2 separate regions of the Homo sapiens genome follow, and region 2 is linked to region 1. Evidence: fine-mapped expression QTL. A gene starts in region 1. The other region holds a variant in brackets. All regions are shown on one strand. Distances are between the middles of the regions.

Region 1 (5,384 bases):
TTTCTAACACAGAGTAGCATGTTGTGGAACTTGTTCTATTAGTCTTTTTTCTCTGTTAAGGAAGCAAGGATCTCTCTGTATGGAAGCAGTGCTGCTATTTCTAGTTTGAGGAAAAAAATGGTAAAGAATTTGATAATTAATTGTTGTTAAAACAGCAAATTATATTTTAAACACAGATTGTCCACACCTGTAGGAGGAGGAATCTCAAGAATGCACACAATTAATAAAAGCTGGTTCTGAATTACCCATACAAGTGCGCACTGCGTTCAGTAAACAACTGATTTGCAAACTATATCCTTTCTTTCCCAGAAATAGCAGGAGGAAGTTTTTCAAATCAAAAAAAAAATCTAACTAAAATATTTTATACGTGAAGGCCTGCAGAATTTTACTTCCTTTTGCTGTTGAAAAATCACAATAGCCAAGAGGAGTAATGTATTTTATTTTAACTTTTAAAAAGTCATGATGGTTAAGGGTAGAGTGGAGGTGCAGAGAAAGAAGTTGGCAAGAAAATGTTCAGGGCCTGTTGTAAAACCAACTGCAACCCAAACATGATTCCAAATAGGTAAGAACACCCTGTTACAACAGAGAGCAGTTTTCAAAGAAGAAATGAGAGGGAGGTGACCTGAAAGATCATTTCCCAGTTATAACTAAAGGAACCTACGGATACTTTTATATTAAACACATGCTAATATAATATTTTCCACATATTATTAAATGTAAGAAGATATATAATTATATACTTCTATAGTCAGAAACAAAATAACTCCTAGAAGTAAATGGTTTGTTACTGTAGTAGTAGTAACTACCTGGGCACTTACCTAGTGCTCTTATTAAAAACTCACCACAACTCTGCTGTCTTACAGGTTGTTGAACAGATTGAAAGAAACCGATACCGAGAGAGTTAAGTAAAATGCACAAGGTCACACTGGAAAAGATAGAGTTAAGAGTCACTCAGCTCTGTAAAACTCCAAAGCCCATGTTTCAACAACTCTGCAATACTGTGCACTGTATAAATGTATGTTGTGGTCTTGAGAGAACTTTATTTCCTGGACTTGAAAAATACATCACAAGCCGGGCGCGGTGGCTCACGCCTGTAATCCCAGCACTCTGGGAGGTCAGGAGTTCCAGACCAGCCTGGCCAATATGGTGAAACCCCGTCTCTATTAAAAATACAAAAAATAGCTGGGCGTGGTGGCGCACGCCTGTAGTCCCAGCTACTCCGGAGGCTGAGGCAGAAGAATCGCTTGAACCCGGAAGGCCGAGGTTGCAGTGAGCCGAGATCGCGCCACTGCACTCCAGCCTGGGTGACAGAGAGAGGCTGTCTCAAGAAAGAAAGAAAAGGAAAGAAAAGAAAGAAAGAAATAAAGATCACAAAGAACTTTCAAACAGCTTAGATTTTAAAGTGCATTAACAATTTCCAAGACCTAAGTGACGCTTTAGTGTACAGCTAGAAAACATGGAATGTCATTCCCACCTGAAATGTTTAAGGGAAAATGTACTATTTCCTTAGTTTGTGCAAAATCTGAAATCTGAGTCAACTTTGTTTCAAAATGGAATAAACAAAGTTTGATTGGACCCACTAAACATTCTTCTTAGCAACAATGCGACACTTGCAAGGAGTTCCCTTTTTCACACTCTTCAAAGAGGAAATATTCCGATTTCGTAAAATTAGGGCTTCGCTTTTAAAAAAAATTACAGACCAAAAAAAGTGTGGTTACACAATATAACTAGTATTGACTTAAGGGTACTGTGATCACCATGCAGTGATCCCATAAAAGATGTGACCAAAATACCCACTTAAAATTTGAACGTCAGTCATGTAAGAACATGTAAAAGATGAAGGGAATATTTCAAAAACGACTATCTGACGTAATATGATACTTACTATGACTCATATGGGCTTTGTTCTTCATCTCATCTTCAAATAAAAAGTTGATGATTAGAAAAAGGAGCATTAGAAGGGGGAAGTAACACTACTCGGCAATAGAGAAAAACTCCGGTCAAAGGAAGAGCATAGTTACAGAGCTCCGAATGTCAGGGAAAATCAAGCATCCGTCATTCGGAATTAGCTCTGTATCGGTCGGTTTCTTCATTACTTAATTGTACGGGGGGAAACTACTTCAAAGTAAGGGCTCTTACGAGAGGCAACTTAAGCATTTGAAAGTGCAGGTTTATTTCCTCCTAGCGAGAAGTAGGGGGTCACTAGTGAGAAACCTATTTCAATCTGTGAGACGCCCCCTTCTACTCAGCCCACGTGGCTAAAGTAAACAGAAGGTGGGCCGGGGCGGGGAGAAACAGAACTCGGTCAATTTCCCAGTTTGTCGGGTCTTTAAAAATACAGGCCCCTAAAGCACTAAGGGCATGCCCTCGGTGAAACAGGGGAGCGCTTCTGCTGAATGAGATTAAAGCGACAGAAAAGGGAAAGGAGAGCGCGGGCAACGGGATCTAAAGGGAGATAGAGACGCGGGCCTCTGAGGGTAAGGTGGGCGCAAGCGGAGGTGTGGTGCGGGGAGAGGTGCCAGTGGGTGGAGGCGGGGGCCAGAGCGAGGGCACGTGCGGGTACACTCCGGAGGAGGTGGGTGCGCGCGGGGGCGTGTGCGCGGGACCTCGAAGTGGTGGTGGAGTGCAGACCAGCAAAAAGTTTCAAAGGGAAATCTTAGATGTCACGTCTTTGTCCAGGCACCCGTGCCATCCCAACCTCCCACCTCGCCCCCAACCTTCGCGCTTGCTCTGCTTCTTCTCCCAGGGGTGGAGACCCGCCGAGGTCCCCGGGGTTCCCGAGGGCTGCACCCTTCCCCGCGCTCGCCAGCCCTGGCCCCTACTCCGCGCTGGTCCGGGCGCACCACTCCCCCCGCGCCACTGCACGGCGTGAGGGCAGCCCAGGTCTCCACTGCGCGCCCCGCTGTACGGCCCCAGGTGCCGCCGGCCTTTGTGCTGGACGCCCGGTGCGGGGGGCTAATTCCCTGGGAGCCGGGGCTGAGGGCCCCAGGGCGGCGGCGCAGGCCGGGGCGGAGCGGGAGGAGGCCGGGGCGGAGCAGGAGGAGGCCCGGGCGGAGGAGGAGAGCCGGCGGTAGCGGCAGTGGCAGCGGCGAGAGCTTGGGCGGCCGCCGCCGCCTCCTCGCGAGCGCCGCGCGCCCGGGTCCCGCTCGCATGCAAGTCACGTCCGCCCCCTCGGCGCGGCCGCCCCGAGACGCCGGCCCCGCTGAGTGATGAGAACAGACGTCAAACTGCCTTATGAATATTGATGCGGAGGCTAGGCTGCTTTCGTAGAGAAGCAGAAGGAAGCAAGATGGCTGCCCTTTAGGATTTGTTAGAAAGGAGACCCGACTGCAACTGCTGGATTGCTGCAAGGCTGAGGGACGAGAACGAGGTCAGAGCGCTTCTCTTATGCCGCGAAACTCTCCCTTTCTTCTCCCCTTCGCTTTTTCTCGGGCTTCCAGGGACTGGGGAGCAAACCCTGTAGTGTCACCCACAAATACCAAGAGGGAAGAGGGAAGCTTCACAAATTACTGGAGCCTCTTCAACATGGCTGACAAATATAGTTTTAATTCCCTCTACCCCTTTTAAACCTGTAGTTCTGTGTTCTCTTCTCTCCTCCTAATGCTCGTCCCCTCATCTCCCAGAAAACTTACCTTTGTGCCTCCGACGAGCCGGTTTCCCGGCCTTTTTTAATCCTCAGAAAAGTGATTTTTAAATTTGCTTTCCTTTCTAAAATAGTTCAGCTTTGGGGGCACTACTTTTCCCTTTAATCCTCTTCCCCTGTTTCTTTCGTGTAAGTGAAACGAGTCTCCCGTTTATCCTGAACAACCTCAGAGAGAACACTGATAGGGTGTTTTTCGACCCTTTTATCAGCTGTAGGGTCTGGGTCTGGGTTTGTGTCTGCCTCCTCCTACCTTCTTATCCCCCTTTAGGGGGCTGTACGAAGTGAATGTCACAGGGAGTGGAATTGGAGTACACTGAGTGGGTTTTTTTTTTCCTTAAGTCCGCGCGTTTTGTTAGCGGCGCTGAGTGAAAGAGGAAAGAATAGTTTCTCTGGTTCCCCAAACAAGACCAGAACTCACTTTTCTCAAGGTACATAAGTCAGCGCTGGGCTGAGCCTTCCAGCCTGGGGAATGTATGTAAGAGAATTTATGGACAAATCTGTGTCCCGGCTTTGTGCTTCTCCCGAATCAGCTTCGTTTGGTTCCTTGGTAAGTGACAGGCAGACACAAAGGCAGGCGCAGGCCCGGGGAGGGGGCGGGAGGGGGTGGGGAGCGCAGCGTTGGAGTTGCAAGACTGCAAGGTCAGGGGCGCCTAAAGAAATGAAACCCAATCCCAGCAAAGAAGTGAAGAGCAGATTTATAACAGTCCCATCCAAATTTCTCTTTGGCTTCTCTCTTTGGTCTTTCATCTCTCTGCCTTTCTCTCTGTGTCTCCTCTCTACTCTTTCTTCTCTCTCTCTCATACACATACACACACACACACACACACACACCTCACTCGCATCTTGCTGAATCTTTTCACTGGGACTGCTTGTCTAGTTTTATTAAGCTAATAGGGTTTGTATGGAGAGTTTTCTACCTATGACATAATGAAGTGTGGCCTGGATAGACTCCTGGAAAGGCCGAAAATGAAATATAAGTGTTATTTGCTGGTTATTCCCCTCATGATATACTTTTAATTACATTGAGGGAGTTCTCCCTTCTTCATCTAATGTTTAAGAATTGAGAAAAGGCTTATTTTCCAGCGGTAAAATTTAGTGCATAAAATTTAGTGAAATATTTATATATTTACGTGTCTAGGGAGTGGAATACATTCATGAATTTAATATCTCAAATCACACATTGTGCTTTTTCCCCTTCAGTCAGGGATTATAATGGGAAACCCAAATTCAAAGATATTCATCAACAAATGATCCATCATAGGAATAAGATTGTATCTTAAGGGAAGTTGGGATTCACAGAGAAAAGACATTGGTTTGGTTTGGTGTGATACTGTGGGTATTGTTGCCTGGCTAATGAAATCATTACATTTGCATTTTAATGGAAAGTTGAAATACTAAGGGGAGTTATGTTCTTTTACATGTTTGTATGTGTGCTTAATAATGTTTGGAATAGAATATAAATTTAAACACAATAAATATTGATTTTTTTAAATGTTAATAAGCAGAGAACGGTTAATGAAGTGTTGGATAATCAAACTGAAGTTTAGAAGACAATTTATAGGATTAAAAAATGGATAGAAGGAAAAACACAATAATAGATATTTCTCCATAAGTCGAATTTCCAAAACTATTTGTCCTCGATAGTTCACTTTGTAACTTTCTATTTTGATCTTTGTTAATTTAATGTAGTTTGCTTTAATCATTGATACGTGGGGTTCTTTCACATGATTACAAGGGAGAA
Region 2 (5,384 bases), 38 kb after region 1:
ATAATTCGAAAACATTTTTAAATATTGCATCTTTAAATTTTTATTTCTTTTATCAAATTTTCCCTATCATTTGTTCTCTGGCTACAACCAAAGTTAATAGTTACATTTTTTTCCAGTGACAAATGGTAATTTGCAAAGACTTGTAACAGTTGCTTAATACTTTTTTATCCCTTATTTAAGAATCATGCAAACAACCAGAGCTGATAGGCAGCAGGTGCACATGAGTGTGGCTGTGCTGATGGTTACTGAAAGATTTCCAAGGTAGCTAGTAATTCTGCTACCCTAAGCCACTATAGCTCCTTCCCCATTACTCCCTGGGTCTACCCACCATCCTGCAGCTAGAATAATAAATGGCATGTAGGTTCCTCTAGGATCCTCCTCCAGCACTATGTCTCATGCCTGGACATATGAGCTGTTAAATATTTTGATTATCACTCCTGTGTGGTAAGGGAGACGTCTACTTGTCGTAACTTGATGTTTACTAAACTACTTTTAAGATTACCTTATGATAAAAGTAGACACTTGCAATTTTGCAGAATGCATAGTTTGTTTTTAACAAACCAGGTAAACATAACTGCAGAGTTTTCCTATACGTTTTGAAATCTTTAAAAAAGTATTTTTTATTTGCCTTTCTATTAGAAATAGATTAGATAAAAATTTCCTTGTTTCAATTTTTAGAATGAACATTAGAGAATATTGTTACTGAAGGAATTTTTTTAAAAATAGTGACTGATCAAATGTCAGCAGCTTTATACTATAGTGTAAAATTTTATTTTGTAGTTTGCCATCCCATTAAGCATTAGAATTTTTATAATTGATCCTTTGATGTTTATATTCATGATATTAATGTAATGTCTTTAAACCTTAGCTCATATAGGTCATATGACTTAAAGCATCCTTAGATGAAGATATTTGGGCTATAAATAATTTATGACATAAGTGATTTAAAAATTCATTCTTTCCATCCATTTTGAAGAAATTGTAAGGTAGGGTTCATGTATACCTAATACTTATCCCCCCAAAATACGAAAAATAAAATCATTTTTAAAATATCTGGGTTAATGCTATAGATTGGAAGCAGTTTTTAAAAAGCACTTAAAGTCTACCAGTTTATTGATCCTCAATCTGTGGCTGTTTTAAATGGATGCAATTAGCAGTTCAGTCTAAGAGAACCATGGTAGTAGACTCATTACTCCCCAGAAACCATTACATCATTTTGTAATATTAAATTACTAAATATAAGGAATAGAATATATATTGTAAAAATTGCTTTGGAATCAATAATAAGTATTGTGGCTATCAATTATAGTTATATATTACAATGTAAGGGATATCCTTTTATAAACTTAATATCACACAAGTAGACTTAGAATAATTCCATTAATATAATTTTGCTTGTGTTTTTATACCTATTCATTTCAATAACTCTTTTTCCTATATATATTTTTTATCTCAAATTCGATAGTATCTAAATCATGGAATCATAAAACCTTAAAGCTGGGTTGGAACAGAAATAATACAATTTAACATCTTATAGGCTCTCTAGTCCTCAGTTTCCCTAAGTGATCGGCTCAAGATCATGAATTTATGGAGGATTAGAGTCAGAATTAGAACCCAAGATTAATTTATACTTTGTTATCTCTTCTACAGCCTACCCCCTTAGTTTGCCTGTGGGTTTATGGAAGTTACAGGAGAGACATTCTGAGATTCAGCTAAAAACCTAGCTCCCAATAGAATTATTGCCCTGTAGTCAGCCGCGCAAATACAATCACAAATACCTGAAGTTCCTTGTGTGAAGAAAAAGAAAATGACTATTAAAGCATCAAAATCAATGCAAGTTACCTTTCTTTGCCCCTTTCTTCCCCTTTCACTCCTTTCTTCTCCTATACTACTTGAAATTTCTAGCGGGGATCTCTAAAATGCCTGGATGTTAGGAATGGTAAGTCTATTGTAGAGAATTATATTTTCTATTTTAGTGGATGAAAAATAAACCATACCCTTAAGAGGCTTTTCAAAGTTAAGATTTTGAGCACATCCTTCATTGGCCCAGTCTCTGACCAGTGAGGTCAAGTATTAGCCAGTGTCAGAATGTCGTGAAAAGTTTGTGTTTCAGATGCAGAATTTTTTTTTGCATTTTCTGTGTGATGTTTATAGGGTATTTTCTTCTGAAATGTTTTCCATCTTGGTTTTTAAAAATATCTATTATTTTAAAAAATATTCCCTCATAACTTCTTTTTATTTTCGGAAACTATATAAATTGATCTGATAATCTATACACAATGCCTTGTGAATTTATACCTGTACCTCTCATGTTCCAGTGTTTGGTTCTTAAATAATCACTTTGTATAATGGAAATACTATGTTAAATTGTTTATAACTGGTGGTTGATATTTCAGCCTTGTTTGGCTATCGTAGTTATATAAAGACTGTTAATTAGAAACAACCTCATATGGTGTATGCTTGTTTTTATCTTCATGGAATTTGTTCTGCAAACACTGAGTTCTTTACTGGGAGTCACCACTTTGTCTATGTTAGGAGGAGCAGGAAGTGAATACATTTAAGGTCTTTAATTTTCTTCTTAAAACTTTGACTACTGTAGTGGTTTTTTAAAGCATTAACAGGAGAATAGCCATCACTGCCAAGTAGCTGACATTCTGAAATAGCACTTCCCTTTAGGCACTGTACAGTTGGAATCATTTACTTGCAGAGAGGTGTGTGTGTGTGTGTGTGTATTTATGTGTGTACTCATGTGTATAAGAATAGGAGAAACACTTTGTGGGCATATCCTGCTGAGGTGAGTAACGTGCTGATTAGTGAACTCCAGTCTCATCCCATTTAAACCTGGAGGAGAACCACATCAAGCACAGAAGCAGCCAAAGCAGCATTTCAACAGGAAGGAAACATCTATTACTGGGGCTTTGAAGAAACATGCCATGAAGGTGTACTAATATCACAAAGGGAAGGGAAGGACTAAATTCAGCATGATAAACAAAGTCCCTTTTTTGTAACGGAAGTGTTTGATGATGTTTGATCAATGGTGGATCTATCTCTTGAAAGGAAAATGCATTTAAACCCCAAATGGAGGATTCTTATATAAGGTGCCTAGCTTGTAATGATATATTCATGTTTATAGGTAGAGTGACTGGTTTTTAGAGAAGAGGTTTTTTTTTTTCCTTCATTTTTGAA[C/A]GAAAACTTGTCTGTCTCTAGGCTTTGAAATGTAGAATTATTTACCTTTCCCCAAAATGAAATGTTTCACTGAATCTCCTACAAGCTTGTGGAGGCCATGAAGCATGTTGAATAAGAGCACAGGCTCTGGAGGCCCTGCCACCCACAAAGGGTGTGCTAAGGTAAACAACTGATAGTATTTTGAAAATTAGATGACTTAGAATCCATTCAATAAATTTTAGCTATTTTTATTGTCTTTTTTTTCTAAATCTATTTGGAAAATATTGCAGATAAAGTAGATAATACCTTTCTAAAACACAGTGAGACCAGGCGCAGTGGCTCATGCCTGTAATCCCAGCACTTTCGGAGGCCGAGGTATGCGGATCACGAGGTCAGGAGATCGAGACCATCCTGGCTAACACGGTGAAATCCCGTCTCTACTAAAAATACAAAAATTAGCCAGGCGTGGGGGCATGCGCCTGTAATCCCAGCTACTCAGGAGGCTGAGGCAGGAGAATGGCGTGAACCGGGGAGGCGGAGCTTGCAGTGAGCCAAGATCGCACCACTGCACTCCAGCCTGGGCTACAGAGCAAGACTCTGTCTCTAAAAAATAAAAAATAAAAATAGAACAGTGAATAGTTTATAAAGATAAAATAGAATAGGCTTCAATTTAGGGAACAAAGGAAAATATGTTTAGGAATGATATTATGCTCAAAATGATTGCAACTTTGATGGTGAAGTGTATTTTATTCAATTAAAAATGTAGATATGGCTGGGCGTGGTGGCTCACACCTGTAATCCCAGCACTTTGGAAGGTTGACGCAGGTGGATCACTTGAGGTTAGGAGTTTGAGACCTGCCTGGGCAACATAGTGAGACCTCATCTCTACAAAAAATAAACAAAAAATGTGCTGGGTGTGGTGGTACATGCCTGTAGTCCTAGCCACTTGGGAGACTGAGATGGAAGGATAGCTTGAGTCTGGGAGGTCAGTGCTGCAGTGAGCCGAGATCGTGCCACTGCACTTGAGCCTGGGTGACAGAGCAAGACCCTGTCTCAAGAAAACAAACAAAAAAACAAAAACAACAGTAGATATGTGTGTGGGAATGAGAACATTTAAATGTGCTCATCGGCTTAGATTTTTCTTTAACCCCCTTCATGGCCCTTATCTTAACCTCTGTCTTCAGCACTACCCTTCATATGTTTGTTCCGTTTTATCTTCTAAGTGATTTTTTTATAACTCTCAATGTATCATGGCAGAAGGAAAACTCAGTGTATAAGCTGACTGTATTTTGCATTTTCTTTTTTTTTTTTTTTTTTTTGAGATGGAGTCTCACTCTGTCACCCAGGCTGGAGTGCAGTGGTGCGATCTCAGCTTATTGCAACCTCCGCCTCCTGGAGGCGATTCTCCCGCCTCAGCCTCCCCAGTAGCTGGGACTACAGGCTTGCACCACCATGCCTGGATAATTTTTATATTTTTAGTAGAGACGGGGTTTCATCATGTTGTCTAGGCAGGTCTCAAACTCCTGACCTCAAGTGATCCACCCACCTTGGCCTCCCAAAGTGCTGGGATTGCAGGCATGAGCCACCGCGGCCTGGCTTCATGATCCAAAATAGCATCATTAAGCTTCTCTTTCAAAACATGTATATAAGCCTGTGAGTCATCACTGTATTTATCAGAATATTATCATATTGGAGACTTTGCAAAGCTGAACAAAGCCAGAATTATTGGCTACTGAGGAACTATATTCTAGCAAGAGACTATTCTATTTGTTGGGGATCACCTCTTTTTACTAAAGGGGACTGTTTTGGGCATATAAAACTAGAATTCATGGTTTCTCCTTGATAGTTTGCCAGCTTGATTCCCAGTCAACCAGATAACTGCTGGTAGTGACACTCATGTCCTCCAGGACTCCCAATCTTGTGCCAGCTCAGAGAGGGAAATCCCCCTAGAACTGCTCACACCATTCCAAGAACCACAAGCACCACCTTGGTATAGTTAAAAATGTGATACCAACTCAAATTCTGATAAAAACAAGTTCTATAAAGCTTAATAAAGTTATATTTTTTACTTTTTAAGTTTTGTTTTACTATTTTAAACAGAAAACAGAAGGTAAAAACTCCTCTGCCTTCCTCAGTATTTGGTTTGTCAGTTGCTGAACTCAGATTTAAGAGTCTAATCATATACAGGCAATAACCCTCTTCTAATCTTAATAATGTTT

The links. PIP is the estimated chance that this variant, and not a neighbour inherited with it, causes the effect.
Region 2: its variant is the best candidate, but not a certain one, in a credible set for the expression of TET2 in whole blood (INTERVAL, PIP 0.60).

The regions. Positions count from the first base shown.
Region 1 is chr4:105,143,610-105,148,993 of GRCh38, forward strand. TET2 (tet methylcytosine dioxygenase 2) reads left to right here and starts at 3,267. Exons shown (of 11, transcript NM_001127208.3): 1 at 3,267-3,370. LOC124900868 reads right to left here. Exons shown (of 3, transcript XM_047416559.1): 2 at 1,886-3,352. The coding sequence ends at 2,664. RefSeq lists enhancers at 1-134, 3,279-3,448, 3,792-3,841 and silencers at 2,529-3,208, 4,172-4,241.
Region 2 is chr4:105,182,010-105,187,393 of GRCh38, forward strand. The region is part of intron 1 of TET2 (tet methylcytosine dioxygenase 2); the gene reads left to right. All of the region lies in intron 2 of TET2-AS1 (TET2 antisense RNA 1), which reads right to left. Among named protein-coding and RNA genes, the nearest start is that of TET2, 38 kb to the left of the region's middle. The variant C/A (reference allele first, on the strand shown) is at 3,187.